3 separate regions of the Homo sapiens genome follow, and regions 1 and 3 are each linked to region 2. The links come from fine-mapping of genetic effects on gene expression. A gene starts in region 2. Each other region holds a variant in brackets. All regions are shown on one strand. Distances are from middle to middle.

What was found. PIP is the estimated chance that this variant, and not a neighbour inherited with it, causes the effect.
Region 1: its variant is the best candidate, but not a certain one, in a credible set for the expression of ZNF7 in whole blood (TOPMed, PIP 0.71).
Region 3: its variant is the best candidate, but not a certain one, in a credible set for the expression of ZNF7 in cerebellar hemisphere (GTEx, PIP 0.76).

Annotation. Positions count from the first base shown.
Region 1 is chr8:144,891,643-144,898,231 of GRCh38, reverse strand. All of the region lies in intron 1 of ZNF250 (zinc finger protein 250), which reads left to right. Among named protein-coding and RNA genes, the nearest start is that of ZNF250, 6.5 kb to the left of the region's middle. The variant T/G (reference allele first, on the strand shown) is at 3,835.
Region 2 is chr8:144,823,855-144,830,443 of GRCh38, reverse strand. It overlaps ZNF7 (zinc finger protein 7), which reads right to left and starts at 2,884. Exons shown (of 5, transcript NM_003416.4): 1 at 2,835-2,884; 2 at 1,354-1,401; 3 at 840-966. The coding sequence starts at 1,356. LOC100130027 (a long non-coding RNA gene) reads left to right here and starts at 3,404. Exons shown (of 5, transcript NR_147501.1): 1 at 3,404-5,131. RefSeq lists enhancers at 1,655-2,180, 2,181-2,706, 2,707-3,232 and a silencer at 2,564-3,693.
Region 3 is chr8:144,903,934-144,910,522 of GRCh38, reverse strand. No RefSeq gene overlaps it. Among named protein-coding and RNA genes, the nearest start is that of ZNF250, 5.8 kb to the right of the region's middle. The variant G/A (reference allele first, on the strand shown) is at 3,013.

The sequences.
Region 1 (6,589 bases), 68 kb before region 2:
TCCACCTCCCAGGTTCAAGCAATTCTCATGCCTCAGCCTTGGGAGGAGCTGGAATTACAGGCACGTGCCACCACACCCAGCTAATTTTTGTATTTTTAGAAGAGACGGGGTTTCACCATGTCACCCAGGCTGGTCTTGAACTCCTGACTGTTGGGATCAGGCCCCCCCAAAATCTGGCTATAAACTGGCCCCAAAACCGGCCATAAACAAAATCTCTGTAGCACCGTGAAATGTTCATGATGGCCATAATGCCCACGCTGGAAGGTTGTGGTTGTGGGTTTACCGGAATGAGGGCAAGGAACACCTGGCCGGCCCAGGGTGGAAAACCCCTTAAAGGCATTCTTAAGCCACAAACAATAGCATGAGCGATCTGTGCCTTAAGGACATGCTCCTGCTACAGTTAACTAGCCCAACCTATTCCTTTAATTCGGCCCATCCCTTCGTTTCCCATAAGGGATACTTTTAGTTAAATTAATATCTATAGAAACAATGCTAATGACTGGCTTGCTGTTAATAAATACGTGGGTAAATCTCTGTTCAGGGCTCTCAGCTCTGAAGGCTGTGAGACCCCTGATTTCCCACTTCACACCTCTATATTTCTGTGTGTGTGTCTTTAATTCCTCTAGCGCCGCTGGGTTAGGGTCTCCCCGACCGAGCTGGTCTCAGCACCTGACCTCAGGTGATCCACCCACCTTGGCCTCCCAAAGTGCTGGGATTACAGGCATGAGCCACTGTGCCCGACCAGAAAGCTATCAATTTGGATACATATTTCTGATCATTAATTCTGGAAAGGTTGCAGGTTAGGGTTAGTTTAGGTTAGTTAGGGTTAGTTTAGATTAGGTCAAGTTTAGCAGTGTTTCGCCTTGTGCTCACAAGTGGCTCAGAAGCTGCCTCTCTTGAAAGTGCTTTCACCCTAGCGGGTAGGGGCTCCTTGGTGATGAAGAGGGAGCAGTGCTTGTTAGCAGAAAGTCCAGGGAGTGAGGATGATGAGGAGCAGGAGAAGGCAGTGGCCCTGGAGGAGATCCTGGAAGCTCATCCCAGATCAGGAGACTCCAAATGTGCCTGTCCCAGTGTGTGACCATGTGCAGGGTCCTCTGGAATGACAGGCACACTGCTTTGTCACATCAAGACAGTCAGGAATTCCAAAAAGAGTGATAGGAATGTCTCACTGCGATGTGGCTTTTGATCACCTAAAGAAAACTGGAAAGCCAGTTGCTGCTAATAACGTTGATCTATTGTTTTTGTTTTGGATTATTCCTTAGGGAAATTTTCAAGATTGAAATTCCTGAGTTTGAAAAATTAGCTCCTTATGCTGCCACCTTTGTAACCAGTGGGTGGGAGGGATCATTGCTCAGCCAGTGCCCTGAGTGGGTGTTCTTTATATTGCCCATTTGTTAGCTGTTGGCATGGCCTCAAGAGGGGGCTCCTCAAACTCCACTTCCAGTATTCTGTGGCGGTGATCTCCAGCCTGTCCCAGCCCCTGGCCCTGGAGCCTGGCATCTATAGAGGACTCGTCATTAGCCTGTCTTAATTTTTTAAAACTGTCCACATCATCCTCCTTCCCTGCCTGAACTGTGTTCTCATGGAGCAAAGCTTGGAGTTGGACGTCAGAATCCCGTGAAGTGTGGATGGAGTGTGTTGTTAAAAGCCAGTTTCTGGCACCCCCGATAGCTCTTACATTTTCCTGTCTTGAGTATGCAAGGTTTAGGTTGAGGTCCATGGTGTTTGCCTGGCCTGGTATCCTGTTACAGGCTCGTTCCAGGAAACTGAAACCTTTATCTGCCATAGTGTAAGTAAGGAAAAAATTTAAACTAGTTAATACCACTTTTAAAATGTATTTTGTTCATATTTTTTTTTAATTTTTATTTATTTATTTATTTATTTTGAGACAGGGATTCATTCTGTTGCCCAGGGTGGAGTGTAGTGGTGCAGTTACAGCTTACTGCAGCCTTGACCTCCTGGGCTCAAGCAATCTTCCCATCTCAGCCTCCAGAGTACCTAGGTCTACAAACCAGCTAATTTTTTAAATTTTTTTATAGAGACGGGGTCTCACTATATTGTCCAGGGTGTTCTTGAACTCCTGAACTCAAGCAATTCTCCCACCTTGGCCTCCCAAAGTACTGGGATTATAGGTGTGAGTCACCATGCCCAGCCATTTTTGTTCATTTATTACCAGAATACAATCAGACTTTGTGATAGGATTTTTTTTTTTTTTTTTTTTTTGAGACAGAGTCTTGCTCTGTTATGCAGGCTGGAGTGCAGTGGCACAATCTTGGCTCACTGCAACCTCTGTCTCCCAGGTTCAAGCTATTTTCTTGCCTCAGCCTCCTGAGTAGCTGGGATTACAGGTGCCTGCCACCATGCCTGACTAACTTTTTGTATTTTTAGTAGAGACGGGGTTTCACTATGTTGGCCAGGCTGGTCTCGAACTCCTGACCTTTTGATCCGCCCGCCTCGGCCTCCCAAAGTGCTGGGATTACAGGTATGAGCCACTGCGCCTGGCCGATTTTTTTTTTAATTAGCAATATGTGATGGTCATCTTTCAATAGAGACCTGATACTGCATTTTGTGTGATGCTTTTCTAAGACTCACCCCAGGTGGCAGTCTTTCCCTTTCACTTCTCCTTGCCACACACTTGTTGACAGCCTGGTATTGTCCTTTGGAGTATTTCCTCTGTGTGTTAATCAAATAGATAATAACACCTTATCCAGCAGCATCCTCCTCTGAGCCAAGCCTGTTCTTAGCGCTCTCCTCTCACCAACCACATGATCTCCAGGCCTTCAGAGGAGTGTGTCATCTGGATTTATAGGTGGGGCCTCAATGCAGCTGGCCCAAGTGAGGCAGGTGAACCAGTCCCAGGTCCTTGTGACACACATACCCTTCATGGGCTCGGGGTCATAGTTTACAAAATGAGATTTTCCCCTGCATGCTGGCCCCATGCTGCATTTTCACTCACCCATCTGGTGACCTGACACAACATACATCTTTCTCTTTAGCAGGTGTGTAACTTGTATGTGGAAGGACCAACGTAGCATTTGCCTCAGCAACATCCTTGAATCTGCACCCTCACCCACATCCATTCTTATCAGGTACCCACTATCCAAGGGCCAGTCTGATTTGCCTAAATACTGCTAGGTCGCCTTCTTAAGAGTATGAGAAACTCCACTTTCCCATGCCTGCCAGTTTAAAGTGTTGACTCCGTACTTGGCTATTACAGATGGCATAAAGTGTGAGCTCATTCCTCTTCATTCATTTATTCAACAAACAGGCCGGGTGTGGTGTTCTCAGGCCTGTAATCTTGACACTTTCGGAGGCCAAGGAGGGAGGATCCCTTGAGCCTAGGAGTTCAAGACCAGTCTGGGCAACACAGCAAGACCTCGTCTCTACCAAAAAAAAAAAATTAAGAAATTATCCAGGCATGGTGGTGCAACCTGTATTCCTAGCTACTTGGGATGCTGAAGTGGGAGGATCACCTGAGCCCAGGAGTTGGAGGCTGCATTGAGCTGTGATTGAGCCACTGTACTCCAGCCTGGACTACAAAGTGAGACCCCGTCTCTAAGAAATTAATTAAAAGTTTAAAAAAGTACATTGCCTGGCAATTTGTAATCATTAGCCTAGAAGTAATTAAAAAAAAAAAAAAAAGGTCGACCACTGATTACTCTGTTGGGCCTGCTTCTTGGTCTGCTGGTGCAGGAGAAAGGGATAGGATGAGAGCTGGGTGAGGCCAGGGCTGCTGCGGTGGGTGGGGCAGAGGTCTCTAAGAGTTGGATGGGGAGCACAGGCCAAGGGATAAAGGGCTGCAGGGCTCTGAGGAAAATCACAAAGTTTGGGGCA[T/G]GCCCATAGGAGCCAGTGGGGTCCTGGGAGGACCTTGGAGCAGAGGACAGTCACTGTGTTCTCACAGGAAGGTAGATGGAGGGGCTGGGCAGACAGACGGTGCTGGGAGTCTGTCTGCCCAGATGGGAGCTGCCGAACATCTAGGGGTGGTTGTCATGGGGCAGGGAGGGCGAGATGGGCAACATGGTCAGGTTCTGGATGTGCTTGGAAGGTGAATAGAAGTGTGGGAGTGAAGAAGGAAGGAGGCTGATGCACAGGCTCACAGACCAAGCTGGGGGTAGAAATGATGGTAGAGGGGGTGCTTGGTTTGGGATGTTAAATGTCTGAGATGCTATGAGACACCCATATTGAAAGGTTGAGTCAGAGGGAAGGGGGATCACGAGCTCAAGTGTACCAAAAGAGCTACTGGGCTCAACTGACTTTTCAGACTCACAGGACAACCATGCCTAGCAGCAGCTTCTCGGAAAAGCTGGCCAGCATCATCCAGCAGCCATCCAGGGAGTACTGAGGTGCATAAACACAAGATGCAGGTAGGAGGAGGAGTTAGCCTAGTCGAAAGCCTCGTGGTCATACAAGCCAGCACCTCCTGTGTCAAGAGAACTGGCTGCAAGACCTGCTAGGGAGGCCCTGAATGTACTTCCTGTGGTTGTTCATCATTGAGTCACAGCCCAGGTGTGATTGGTCCGTAGAGAGAATGACCATCCACCTCTGCCAGGTTTCCAGGGGACCAGAGCTGTGCATTCACCCAAGGTCAAATTCGCATGCAGGGCTAGGCGCAGTGACTCAAGCCTGTAATTCCAGCACTCTAGGAGGCCAAGAGGGGCATATCACTTGAGCTCAGGGGTTCGAGACCAGCCTGGGCAACATGGTGAAACCCCGTACCTACAAAAAGTACAAAAATTAGCCGGGCATGGAGGCAGGTGTCTGTAGTCCCAGCTACTCAGGAGGCTAAGGTAGGAGGATCGCTTGAGCCTGGGAGACGGAGGTTGCAGTGAGCCTAGATCATGCCACTGCACTCCAGCCTGGGTGACAGAGCGAGATTCTGTTTCAAAATAAAGAAATGGCAGATCTGTGCGCTGGTGGGTGACCCATGGAAAGGGTCAGGGTGTGGCAGGAGAGAAGGCACTTCTGCCCTTGAGGGTAGGCAGATGTCAGACAGGGGGACCAGGAGCACATGAGGCCACTGTTAATGCTCACACTTGGTCTTCATCTTAATCCAAAATTGGTTATTGTTGGGCTGGGCGTGGTGGCTCATGCCTGTAATCCCAGCACTTTGGGAGGCCAAGGCGGGTGGATCACCTGAGGTCGGGAGTTCGAGACCAGCCTGACCAAGATGGTGAAAACCCATCTCTACTAAAAATATTTAAAAAATTAGCCGAGCGTGCTGGTGGGTGCTTGTAATCCCAGCTACTCGGGAGGCTGAGGCAGGAGAATTGCTTGAACCTGGGAGGCAGGGGTTGCGGTGAGCCAAGATCACCCCATTGCATCCCAGCCTGGGTGACAGAGCAAGACTTCGTCTCAAAAAAAAAAAAAAATTGGTGGCTGGACACGGTGGCTCACGCCTGTAATCCCAGCACTTTGGGAGGCCAAGGCGGGCGGATCACCTGAGGTCGGGAGTTCAAGACCAGCCTGACCAACATGGAGAAACCCTGTCCCTACTAAAAATACAAAAAAAATTAGCTGGGCATGGTGGCGCATGCCTGTAATCCCAGCTACTTGGGAGGCTGAGACAGGAGAATCACTTGAACCCAGGAGGTGGAGGTTGCGGTGAGCCGAGATCTCGCCGTTGCATTCCAGCCTGGGCAACAAGAGTGAAACTCTGTCTCAAAAAAAAAAACAAACAAAAAAATTGGTTATTGATGTATCCCATCTGGGTACACACAAGTTACTAAAGGAACCACTGATTTCCTGCTGAACTAAAATGTAACATTTTTGTTATCTTCCAATTTCCCACATACCTGTCTGGCTTCATCTGTTCCTCTGTCAACAACTTGTTGGTTTAATTGCAGCGGCTTCCTACCCACCCTTGGCTCTGATTCCTGGCAAGGCAGTCCCCACCCTCTGTTCTTTCCAGTTAAATTCTTGGCTATTCTCTAGCATCCATTCTTCTTATGAATTCTCAAGTAGTTGTAGTCATTCCTTTAAAAGACTTCTGTTGGAATTCTAATTAGAGTTGCATTGCGCTAACACAGAAGTGTGCTCACACACACATTTGGAGGGAATGGGCATTTTTGGAGAACAGCAGCACGGGGGAGGGTTGAAAGTCAGTCTCTCTCCAACTGTGTTTCCCTGTCCTGTTCTTCAGAGGCAGGCAGTTAGTTTATTGTGTATCTTCCTGAAAGTTGTCTGTGCAAATATATACATGTATCTGATGTGTGTTTTTTTTGTTTTGTTTTGAGACAGAGTCTCAGCTGAGATGATCTCAGCTCACTGCAACCTCCACATCCTGGGTTCAAGTGATTCTCCTGCCTTAGCCTCCTGAGTAGTTGGGATTACAGGCACCCGCCACCACACCCAGCTGATTTTTGTTTTTGTTTTTGTTTTGAGATGGAGTTTTGCTCTTGGTTGCCCAGGCTGGAGTGCAATGGCATGATCTCGGCTCATCGCATCCTCCACCTCCTGAGTTCAAGCAATTCTCTTGCCTCAGCCTCCTGAGTAGCTGGGACTACAGGCGTGCACCACCACACCCGGCTAATTTTGTGTTTTTAGTAGAGACGGGGTTTCCCCATGTTGGTCATGGCTGGTCTCGAACTCC
Region 2 (6,589 bases):
CCTGGCAAGCTAATGAGGGTGTGAAAATAGGCTCAAGCTCAGCAGAAATCAGAGAAATGCAAACTCAAACTACAACAGCCTCCCACTGTACACTTATCTGACTGGCAAAACAGAAAGCTGGACTTTGCCAGACTAGCCGGGACAGAGGGGGACAGGCCTGGTCCAACACCCCAAGAAGCTCCTGGCCAACCAACGATGCCCGCGTCAGTTCCACTCCTGATCCCCCAGCCCAGGCACTCTCTCGGGCGTGTGATGCAGCAGAGGGCTTAGTCACAGGCAAGAGGCCCAGCAAGGCCCAAGTTAAGACGCACCCCCCCTCACCAAGTTGCAATCCAACGACAGTATACAGCTTGTGAGGACACAGGCATGGACATAAAGAGCACCGCAGTGGCTGCCTGTGGCGGTGGTGGAGTTCAGAGAGGAGACTAACGGCAGGACAGGAGGGGCAAGGGGATGACGGCATCTGCAAAGCAGCCGTGTGGGCGTCGCTGCCACCTCTTGCTCGTTGCACAACCTTTTCCTTGGATTTCTCCACCCAATAATTTCTCTTTTCTTGTCTAAGCTATTTCAAGTTTGGATTCTATTTCTCACAATTTAACAGCTTAGGAAAAAAAGAGGCTTTACTAACTCCCAGAATCCCACCCACTCCCTGGGGGCTGAACCCCATGACATGGGCAAAGCTAGGAACCAGCCTGGCACACCACTCATGAGTCCAAGCCCCCTGTGGAGCCCACAAGGGTCTGAGCGTTTGGCCTGCATACCCCAGCCTCTGATGGAGGCCTGGCTGGGTGGGTGCTGACTGATGATGCAGGGGAAGGGGCCCCAAGGTGCAGCCTCACCTAGTCCAGCCACACTGCTGTGGTTCTCCAGCATCACTTCCCTGTAGAGGGCCCTCTGGCCAGGGTCCAGACACTGCCACTCCTCCCGAGAGAAGTGCACAGCCACATCGCCAAATGTTACCACCTCCTGAAAGGACACACACCAGCACCCCAGGAATCCCTGGGTGCCAGCCCCCTTCTGGCGCTGCCTCATGACATGTCTCAGGCAGCTGCCCCATGGGGTTGGGCGAGACGCTCACCAGGACTCCTCTGCCTCTAATATTCTGGGGAGGGGCAGTCTCGGGGAGGAGGAAGGAACCCAGTCCATGGTGGTCATACAACCCTCCCCCCTCAAGAGCCTCAATTAGGCCCTGGTTTGGGCAGGGGTTTGCTCACTACCTTGGGGTTGGGGGCAAGGGGGCCTTCCTAAGCCCAGCAAGGGCCAAGGTAGGGTCTGGGCCCAGGGCCAGTGGGCAGAGCAGGAGGTGGGCCTTCACAGGACATGCGAGGGGAAGGAGGCAGTCAAGCTTCCTACCATGAGGCTCAGTGGTGGGTGGGCATCCACGTGTTCTGGCCGAGAGACCTGTTGGCAATTATGAAAGGATTAGAGGTCAAGGTGCCAGAAGCCCAACTTCCAGGCTAATCAAGGGGGTACTGTGCTCTCTGCTCCTTTACCTCCAGCCCCAGATTTCTCTAGCAGGGACATGGGGCTGGGCTGAAGCAGCCATGGCACTTGAGTGAAGGAGGCCCACTGAACTCTTGTTCCTCTTTAGAGTGTATGTGTGTGTGGCATGTGTGACTCACTCCACAAAGCCGTAAGAAGTGGATGCCACGTGCCAGGCACTGAGTAATGGGGATACAGTAGTGGACACGAGGACCCTGCCTTCACGAAGCAGTCTGGCGGAGGAAAGAGTTAAATAACCACACAAATAAGCACACTGCAACCACGACAGCGCTCAAGTACAGGGAACTATGAAAGCCACTTAGACTAGAACGTTCAGTGTAATGGGTCACTTCCCCAGGGACCTCGGCCAAGGTAATGGAGGTGGAGAGAGCACTCCAGGCAGCAGGAATAGCATGTGAAAGGGCCTGAAGCAAGAAGAAATGGGGTTGGATGAACCAGTGTGGGTAAATTCCCGGCAGCAAGGGAAGGCAGTGAGCGACTGGAGGTTGGGGAAGGCAGTGAGCGACTGGAGGTTGGAGAAGGCAGGAGCAAAAATGACAAACTGTAGGGAAGACAAGAGTGGACATGGAAACCCCTGCCCTCAAGTACATAAATTCCAGTCTCCAGCTCACCTGTCGCCAGGATGGAACCAGGCACAGGGATGTAATCTGATATAAATCGTTCACCTCAATTAAGCCAATGACCCCAGACCCTCTACCTGCCCAGGCATTCCCCCGGGAGGTCGGAATGGGAAAAAGAGTCTTCGTATGGCAGCTTCTGGCCCAGAAAGTGGTTTGTGGGTGGAAGCCCCAGGTCACCGGCACAGGTAGGCTGATCCCCCCACCTGGCTCCTGACAGTAGGAATGCCCGGAATAGCAACCAGAATTTAGAGAAGACAAACAGCCTACCCCACCCAAGGCACCGTTCCTTCCTCCACTGTCACTTATCCTAGGCCTTCCGGGGCAATAAATAGAAAGAGAAAAGGCTCTAGAAGGAGGTGATTTCGCAGGAGGAGTCAGGGCCCCGGGAGTAGACCCAGGCCTGAAGAAAAGGCCGCAGCTGGAGCTCGCCTTACTCAGGCCCCGGACACCGTGGCCGCCACGAGCGGGGTCTGCGGGGAGCTGCGAGACTCGGCCAAACGAAGCCCACCTCGCGCCGCCGCGGGGGAGGGTGGCTGGGCTCGACCACCTCCCACACCAGGCGCTCAAGGCCCCGCAAAGCCCCCGCGCTTTCCCGCCTGGAGGCCCGGGGGACGCGGGGACCCCAATGCCGAAGGCGGGAGGGCTAAGGAAGCGACCAGGGATCACTCGGACCGAGGGCAACCCGAGTCCGCGCCCGCCGCGCCGACTCACCCTCCCTGAGGACCACCCGAGGCTCGCAAACGCGCGACGCCGCCGGAAACGGGCCTTGGCCACCCGCGTCCGCCCCGCCCCGCAAACTTCCGGCCGCCCTGGGCCGCTCGGAGGCCCGGCCATCTCTGTGGTTCTCAGCCCCGCCTCCCAGGCTCCGGAGAAGGGGTGGAGTCAGAGCCGAGGAGGGGCGAGGCTGGGGCCCGAGGGACAAGAACCTGGGCGGGACCAGAAGCCCAGATAGGCGGGGCTGGCGCCTGGGGGCGGGGTACAGTCAGAGGCGGGCAGGGGGCGGAGCCGCGAGGGAGAGGAGGGCCCAGAGCCCGGAGTGGGCGGTGCCTGAGCAGGGGCGGGGCGGGGCCGGGGCCTGGAGCTGGGGACGCGGGCCGGGGCCGGGAGTTGCGGACTCGCTGGCGGGTGGGAGGAGCGGAGTCGGGGCGAGGCTGGCGGAGATCCAGGGGATCGCCCGGTTGGGCCCTGCGCACCCCGGATCACCAGCTTCGGGCGCTGGTTCCCACCGAGGCTGTTCAGGCGCCGCTCCCCCGCGTCCCTGCGACAGGAGGCGCCTGCTGGGCGCGCTATGGACCCCGCCTCGCGGAGACGCCTGGCTCGGGCCTTGTCCCCAGTGAGCGGCTGGAGCGGCCGCGGGGTCGCAGAGCCTCCGGGACCCCGAGGAAGGGCGCCCCTCGGAGTTGCCCGAGGCCGGGCCCGGCGTCCACTCGCCACTCGCCTCGCCCCTCCCCGGCCCCGCACCGCCCTCCACCCCGCCTCCTTCGGGTTCCTTCTGCGTCCGGCAGAGCCTGCGCGCCTCCCCCGGACGGCCACGGACTCGCAGCCTCGGCGAGGACGCTGCCTGCGTCCCGACTGCCTGGACCTCCCCGCGTGGCTCCCGGCGAAGCCCAGCAGCCGGAGGGTGCCAGGTCCGCCTGACGCGCCCCTCCCCACGGGAAGAACGGGGCGGGGGTCCAGGAGGGACGTAAGCCGGGCTCCCCCGGCGTGTTGATCCGAACCCGCGCGGGAAAACTTGCGCAAACCAAAGGAGGGAAGAGTCAGGCAGCCCCCAGCCCCCCAGGGAGGCCCAGGTGAAAAACAGACGCCGGCCTCGCCTCTCCCGGTGCGGATGATCCCGGCACTCCCACCCCCGCCCCTGCTGCCCCGAGTTCGGCTCCCTCAGCCCCACATCCTCTCTGGTCATCTAAGTGGACTGCAGCTGCTCAGGGAGCATGTCGCGAAGGATAGGGAAGGACAGGGGGTCTGCTTCCCCAGCCGCCCTCCAGACCCCCAGGGCTGGTAGGGGCCGGCAACCCTATGCCCCAACCTGGCCTGCTGCAGGTGAGGGGGGCACACCAGGGTAACACAGGAGCAGGAGGGGGAGAAAGCCTGGCTAGAGCATCCACCTCATAGGCACCTTCCTTGTGTCCAGGGTGCAGATGCCAGGGCTCTGAGGCCCTGAGGTCCTGTCTGGGGCGAGGGGGCTTCCTCCATCCACTGCATCCACTGCCCGGCTGAGTCTAGAGGCCACTGAGCAAGCAGACCCTCCAAAGCCAGGCACACTCAGGCCCTCACATGGTCACGGTGCTTATGCTCTGGGCCAGCCTGGATTGCTCATCCCTAGCTGAGATTGGGATTCACAGGGTCTTCCAGTTCCCCCTTTTCTTTCTCTACTGATTGAGAAACACAGAGTCCTTTGATTGCTCTGGGACCTGGCCATTGCGTGTTCCCTGCAGCCTTGAACCCAGTTCAATGGGGCCGGGCACATTCCCTGATAAAGCTGTTTAGGTTGCTTGAAAACACAATCAACCCTATTGCTAAACACGTAGAAACTGGCCCTGCCCTGAGTCCAATCCCTTAAACTCTCATCTAAGCTCCATAGCCAGAGTCCCTTGCTGCAAATGTACCTGGGTGGAGCATCCCTTGCCTCATCATCGATCCCAAGAAAGCTGAAGCTCCATGTGAAAATTTCCGGAAGAAATGCTCTGGACTGATCACCCTGGCGTTTAGAGCTTCTTTCCTTGGAATCCCAACCAATTCCATCGCGGGACTGTTTGGGGAAGTCTTTTGAGGCAACTCCCTTGCTGCCACTTTTGGGGCAACTCTAGCCTCCTCATATTTGGCCAGATAGAACAGTTCCAAGCTGTAAATGTTTCCAGGAAAAAATCTCAACTACAAAGACACTTTCAAGGTGCTGCATTTCCAACAGCACTCTCCGTATCCGAGTGGACAGCCCAGAGCAATGGTGCTTCCAATCCACAGAGCCCCTCCACAGGTCCCTTGCCATCTGCAGACACCCACATCTCAAGGTGAGTGCAGACACCCACATCTCAAGGTGAGTTCAAATGTATCCTGGATTTGTTTTTTGTTTGTTTGTTTGTTTTTTAAGGCAGAGTTTCACTTTTGTTGCCCAGGCTGGAGTGCAATGACAGTCTCAGCTCACTGCAACCTCTGCTCCCGGGTTCAAGCGATTCTCCTGCCTCGGCCTCCCGAGTAGCTGAGATTACAGGCACCTGCCACCACGCCTGGCTAATTTTTTGTATTTTTAGTAGAAACGGGGTTTCACCATGTTAGCCAGGCTGGTCTCGAACTCCTGACCTCAGGAGATCTGCCCACCTCGGTCGCCCAAATTGCTGGGATTACAAGCGTGAGCCACCGCGCCCGGACCCGTGGATTTGTTTTAACAGGTGTGGTAAGGCATGCACACGTGAGAATGACTGTTGTGAAGGAAGAAGTTATAGTCGTGGGTCCCTGGAAACTGGGCAGGGCACACAGGGCGACATGAGAAGGACCAGGGATGGCCAGGAGGCAGAAAGGGGGAGAGGACTGAGTTTGGCCGGAGCCTTTATTTTCTCTGGAAGGAGAGGGCAGGCAGGGTAGGTATGCAGAGTGAGCTCACGATTGGACTATTTGAACAATTGTGGCAGGCTCAGGGCTGTAGGGGTGGCCCCTTCTTGTCCGGTACCTGGCCCTCGGGTTACTTAGGGCAGGGGAAATATTGGCTTGGTGAGTGACCGTGTGATAAGGGAGGGAGATAGTTGTGGACTCTGGATTGGTTGGTTTGTGTCTCAAAGGTGCACTGGGGCTGGGCACAGTGGCTCACGCTTGTAATCCCAGCACTTTGGAGGCCGAGGAGGGCAGATCACCTGAGGTGAGACCAGCCTGGCCAACATGGTGAAACCTCGTCTCTATTAAAATACAAAAAAATTAGCAGGGTGTGGTGGTGCACGCATGTAGTCCCAGGTATTCAGGAGGCTGAGGTGGGAGAATCGCCTGCACGCAGGAGGCAGAGGCTACAGTGAGCCCAGATCACGCCACTGCACTCCAGCCTGGGTGACAGAGCGAGACTCCGTCTCAAAAAAAAAAAAAAAAGGTGCACTGGAAGGGGAGTGTTTGCCGTCTCTGGGAATTAGCTAGCCCTGGAGGGAGCAGCCTCTCCAGGATCAAGGCCCCAAATGCTTGGGTGACCCTGGAGAGCAGGGACGGAGCCCTGCAAACAAAAGGTTCTTCATTCTATGCACACACTCTCTGGTGCATGGTTTCAAAATGTCTTCGTGAAGTCGGGTCCAAGCCTCTATGCAGTGGAGAGAACACCTAGGGAGGAACAGTGCCTGACGGGTGAGCTGGGGAGGAGTGGGCACTGCCAGGAGGGCACTGGGCTGCTGTGGGATGGGGTGAGGTGAGCATCAGGTCGCGGTGCTGTAGGTGTTCCTGGAAGGCACCCTGGGCCCTCTGGACAGTCAGTCCTCACCCATGCCGCACCCATC
Region 3 (6,589 bases), 80 kb before region 2:
TCACATCTGGGGAAACTGGTAAGAAAGCCTGGGTGCTCCCTCTGGTGACACTGGAAGATTCGAACCACACAAGCCCCTGCCTGTATGTGGGAACCTCCCATCAGTCCCACCCCCAACCACAATAAAAACCCAGTCCAGCCTCCTTTCCTTGCTGTCTCAAGCCATTTTGGACCTGCCTGGGAAGCCTCGCTGCTGCCCTCAATTATGTATAAAATAAACCTTTTCACACCCCCCTTGGGGTGTATGTTTTTGTGTGACATCATCAGTCTCAAAATTGTGGGTGGGTCATCTGAGTCTGCAGGTAACCACACAGTCGGCACTGTCAGCAGATGTCTGGGTGATGACCACCCCACCCAGTGGTATGGCTTCCATTGCCTCAGCATATTCATTCACCAGCTCTCTGCTGGCTGGCCAGCATGTGCTCTGAGCTGTACTGCTTTGTGTGTCATTGTTGAGTCCAACAGAACCCTCCAAAAGAAGCTCCAGGGCCTGGGGGGAAAATAGGGCCTTTACTGGGCAAATTTCAGCTGGACCACTCGCCTAAGGCTTGAGGGTCAAGAACCACAGTCACCACCAGCCCCTGTTGTGTGTGGGGAGGGGTGGGGAGCACCGTGGCTCCCAGAGACCCCATGTGGCTTCTGTGTGCAGAGTTTTCTCTGCCCATGGGCTAAGGTCTGAGCAGTTCCAAATGTCAGAACATCAACTGTGGAGACTGCTCCCCTATGGAAATTTGATATAAGCAAATGATGGGTTAGGGATAAATGTCATATGTGGGTATTGGAATAACCAGCTAGCCATTTGGAAGATAAAATTAGATCCATTCTCCACACCATGTAGCAGAATAAACTGCAAATGGAACAGAGAGGTAAATGTAAAGAAACAAAACCAAACAAGTACTAGGTGAAAACATGAATAAATTATTCTAGAAACTGAGAGGGAAATTTTTACTACTACTAAAAATCAAGAAACAAAAGAGAAAATATCGATAAATTTAACCACATGAAATTTTTTTACATGACCAAAACCAACATAAAGTAAAAAAATGACAAACTGAGAAAAATATTTATAACATATTACAGCTAGCACATATAAAATAATATACAAAAGATTATTTTAAGATTAGACTTGTCAGGCCGGGGTGGTTCCTACCTGTAATCCCAGCACTTTGGGAGGCCAAAGTAGCAGGACCACTTGAGCCTAGGAGTTCAAGACCAGCCTGGGCCACATAGGGAAACCCTGTCTCCACACAAAATTTTTTTTTAATTAGCCTGGTGCGGTGGCACACTCCTGTGATCCCAACAACTTTGGAGGCTGAGGCAGGAAGATTGCTTGAGTCCAGGAGGTTAAGGATACAGTGAGCCATGATGGCACCACTGCACTCCAGCCTGGACAACAGAGCAAAACCCTGTCTAAAAAAGATTAGGGTATCATTTTCAACAAATGTTGAAACTACTGAGTAACAATATACCAACGAATGAACTCCAGTCCTTACCTCATACAATGTATAAAAATCGACTCAAAATGTATGATCAACTAAATGTATAAAATTTAGAAGAAGAAAACATAGGAGTTCGGGCACCGTGGTTCACGCCTGTAATCCCAGCACTTTGGGAGGCCGAGGCAGGTAGATCACAAGGTCAGGAGTTGAAGGCCAGCCTGACCAACATGGTGAAACCCCATCTCTACTAAAAATTAGCCAGGTGTGGTGGCACGCGCCTGTAGTCCCAGCTACTCAGAGGCTGAGGCAGGAGAATGGCTTGAACCCAGGAGGCACAGGTTGCAGTAAGCCAAGATCGCGCCGTTGCACTCCAGCCTGGGCAACAGTGCAAGACTCTGTCTAAAATAAAAAAAAAAGAAAGAAAGAAAAAAGAAAAAAAGGAAAAAAAAATAGGAGAAAACCTTACAGATCTTGACTTGGCAAGAATTAATTAATTTTATTATTATTAGTTTTTGTTTTATTGAGTGCTTGTGTGCTAAACACTAAGTGCCGGGGCTACATCAGTGAACAAGCAGCCTCCACCTCCAGGTTCAAGGGGTTCTCCTGCCTCAGCCTCCCGAGTAGCTGAGATTACAGGTATCCACCACCATGCCCAGCTACTTTTTGTGTTTTTAGTAGAGATGGGGTTTCGCCATGTTGGCCAGGCTGGTCTTGAACTCTTGACCTCAAGTGATCTTTCCGCCTTGGCCTCCCAAAGTGCTGGGATAACAGGCATTGGCCACCGCACCCAGGCTATTATTATTTTTTGAGACAGGGTCTCATTCTGTCACTCAGACTGGAGTGCAGTGGTGTGATCATGGCTCACTGCAACCTTGACTTCCTGGGTTCACTCCCACCTCAACCTCCCAAATAGCTGGGACTACCCGTATGTGCCACTATGCCCAGCTAACTTTTGTATTTTTTGTGGCCACGTTCCTCAGGCTGGTCTTGAACTCCTGGGCTTAAGCGATCTGCCCACCTTGGCCTCACAAAGGGCTGAGATGACAGGTGTGAGCCACTGTGCCCACCCAAGAATTTACTAAATAAGAAACAAAAAGTATGAACTTTGAAGGAAAGAAATCCATTAATTCCTTTATCAAAATTTAAAACTTTTGCTCCTCAAAATGAAATGAAATGAAAAGGTACAACTGTGAGAAAGTATTTGCAAAACATATATTTGCAACATAGGACCAGTATCCAATCCTATAAAGAACTCATAATAAGACAAATGACTATTTAAAATGGGCAAAAAATGTAAACAGCTGCTTCACCAAAGAATATATGTACACAGCAAACAAGCACATGAAAAGACCCTCAGCAACATTAAGCATTAAAGAAATGCAAATAAAAACCACAATGAGGCTGGGCACAGTGGTTCATGCCTGTAATCCCAGAACTTTGGGAGGCCAAGACAGATGGATCACTTGAAGTCAGGAGCCCGACACCAGCCTGGACAACACGGCAAAACCCTGTCTCTACTGAAAATACAAAACTTAGCCGGGCGTGGTGGTGCGCACCTGTAATCCCAGTTAGTT[G/A]GGGGGTGAGGCAGGAGAATCACTTGAACCCGGGAGGCAGAGGTTGCAGTGAGCCGAGATCACGCCAAGGCACTCCAGCCTGGGTGGCAGAGTGAGACCCCATCTCAAAAAAAGAAAAACACAATAAGATGCCACTGTACTTCCACCAGCATGGCTAATTTTGTACAAATTGACAATACCAAGGGTAGGCAAGTATATGGAGCAACTGGAGCTGCCACATACTGCTCGAGGGGGGGTCAAGTGGTGAAAAACACTTTAGAAAGAGGTTGACAGTTTCTTTAAAACAAAAGCAGGCCAGGCGCAGTGGCTCACACCTGTAATCCCAGCACTTTGTGGGGAAGAGGCAGGTGGATCACTTGAGGTCAGGAGTTCGAGACCAGCCTGGCCAACATGGTGAAACCCCATCTCTACTGAAACTACAAAAATTAGCCAGGCGTGGTGGTGCCTGCCTGTAATCCCAGCTACTCAGTTGGCTAAGGCAGAAGAATTGCTTGAACCCAGGAGGCAGATGTTGCAATGAGCCTGGATCACGCCACTGCACTCCTGCCTGGACAACAGAGTGAGAGTCCATCTCAAAGAAGACAGAGAGAAAAAAAAGAGAGAGGGAGGGAGGGAAAAAGAAAGAAAGAAAAAGGAAAGAAGAAAAAGAGAAAAAAGGAAGCATAGATACACACAAAAACTTACATACAAATGTCTGTAGCTAAAAAATGGAAACAACCCATGTCCAATATCTGGTGAATGGATTAAAAAGTTATCGTACATACATACAATGGAGTATTGCCCAACAATTTAAAGGAACAAACTATTGATATATGCAGCAAATGGCTAAATCTCGAAATAACTATGCTGAGTGAAAGAGGCCGGACCCACCCATACTCCAAAATAATGTATCTTCTATGATTATATAATATCATACAAACTACAAACTGAGTTAGAGTGACAGAAAGCAGACCCAGGGATGGGGGCGTTTGGGGCTGATGGACCTGTTTAGTATCTTAATTGTGGGGATAGTTTCACAGGCATCTACTTAGGTCAACATTTTCATCAAACTAAAAGTATGTTCAATTTATTGTCTGTGCAATTTATACCTCAATAAAGCAACAAAAATACAGCAGTAAGGACATAGCAGTCAAATATATTTTTAAAAATCAATTTATTATCAGCCTTATAGTATATTTCCCCATAAGAAATGTTTATTTCTCTTCTCTGAACAGAGTATTTCTAAATATCCTCAGTTGTACATATTAATTAGGTTGAGGATAAACTGAATGATAGTTAATGAAATCAGATCTGAGGATATGAATTTTAAATTGATTTTTAAGTTTACTCTTTATCACTTATCTGGTGTCAAATTGATTACCTGTAAGTTCTCACATTGCATCACAAAAACACCATCAGGGATTTTTGGCAATTTTTTTTTTTTGAGACGGAGTCTCGCTCTGTCACCCAGGCTGCAGTGCAGTGGCGCGATCTTGGCTCACTGCAAGATCCGCCTCCTGGGTTCACACCGTTCTCCTGCCTCAGCCTCCCAAGTAGCTGGGACTACAGGTGCCTGCCACCACGCCTGGCTAATTTTTTGTATTTTTTTTTTAGTAGAGATTGGGTTTCACCGTGTTAGCCAGGATGGTCTCGATCTCCTGACCTCGTGATCCGCCCACCTCAGCCTCCCAAAGTGCTGGGATTACAGGCATGAGCCACCGTGCCCAGCCTGATTTTTGGCAATTTTTAATGTTAAACATGGCACTTTACCCAGCTGAAAAAACACATTTTCCTAATCACCCTTGGAGCTAGAATTGGTCTTGTAACACACTTTAGACCAAAAATACATAAGTAAAAGTCACAGGGTGCAGTTCTGAAAGACATGGGGTTGGCTGAGCATACATTTGATTTTGTCTTTTGTTTTTTCTCTTTCTGCCTGGAATCTGGATGTGATTCTAGTGATGAAGCAGTCTTCTTGCAATCATGAGGCAAAAAAAAAAAAAAAAAATGAAAGCTGCTTATTAAGATGGCCAATGGAAAATAAAGGGGGAGCCTAGAGGCCTGGTGGCATTGTGTGGCCTTGGATGGGCTCCGTATTCCTAGAAAAATTGACTCATAAAAAAAACCACCTATTTGGTTCAGCCACTGTAATCAGCTTTCTGTTGTACAGTCAATGCCAATCTTAAGTGAGATAGTAACATAATATGTTAAATTGGTTAAAAAAAATGTGAACACAACCTCAAAAGAATAGTTTCCAGCATAGCACTTCTGGTCTCTCTCTCTCTTTCCATACACACACACACACACACACACACACACACACACACGTTTGTATGGTTTCTGGCTCATAACTGCCATAGCCCTTGTTACACTCGTTTGTTATAACATTGGATGCATTAGGCTTCAGAGAACAAAATCTCTCTGACCTCCTGCCCGCAGGACCCTAATCTTCCCCTACCTCTCTGATTGTGGGTCATAAGACCATCATTCCAGAGAGGGTCCCACCTCATAGCCTGGTGGAAAAAATATCGATGTCATGAAGCTTCCATGAAAACCCAAGAGGACTGGGTTTGTAGAGCTTCTGGAGAGCCGAACACATGGAAGTTCCTGGAGGGCTGTGTGCCCTGCAAGGGCACAGAGGCTCTGCACCCCTCTCCCCATGCCTTGCCCTACACATCTCTTTATTTGTATCCTCTGTAATATCCTTCATTATAAACTGGCAAACATAAGTAAGGGTTTCCCTGAGTTCCGTGAGCTGTTCTAGCAAATCAAACCCAAAGAGGGAGTCATGGAAACCCCAACTTGAAGGAAGTCAATCAGTTCTGGAGGCCCGGGCTATGACTCACGTCGGGGACTGGGGAGTCGTGAACTGACTTGAAGGAAGTCAATCAGTTCTGGAGGCCCAGGCTGTGACTCCTGTCGGGGATTGGGGAGTCGGGAACTGAGCCCTCATCCTGTGGGATCCGGCACTATCTCCAGGTAGACAGTGAAGGAGCTGAACTGGAGGACACCCAGTAGAATTGATGGCTTGCTGATGAGGAGAAATCCCCATATATTTTGGGGCTACATAAGTCTTCTGTGTTGTTAGTATGAGAGCAGAGGAAAAATAGGGTTTGAGAGTTTTTCTGAAACAATTTTCTGGTCTCCTAAGGTAGGTGTGGGTTTGAATCCCACTTGTGGCAGTGTGAGAGCAGAAAAAAAAACAGTTTGAGTTTTTCCAAAACAACTGGTGTCAAAACATGGCGAAACCCCATCTCTACTAAAAATACAAAAATTAGCTGGGCATGATGGCAGGCGCCTGTAATCCCAGCTACTCAGGAGGCTGAGGTAGGAGAATGGCTTGAACCCAGGAGGCAGAGGTTGCGGTGAGCCAAGATCATGCCATTGCACTCCAGCCTGGGCGACAACGAAACTCGGTCTCAAAAAAAGGATAAAAAATAAAAAAAGTAAACTGTATACTCATGAACGATACGTAAATTGTGTGTATATATATTATATATATCATATACGATTTGTTGCAGGGACTGTGCCTTACACCATTGTGGCACATAGTTAACAGTTCCTGTAAGGCTGTTGTCTTTGCATCTGATGCTGGAAC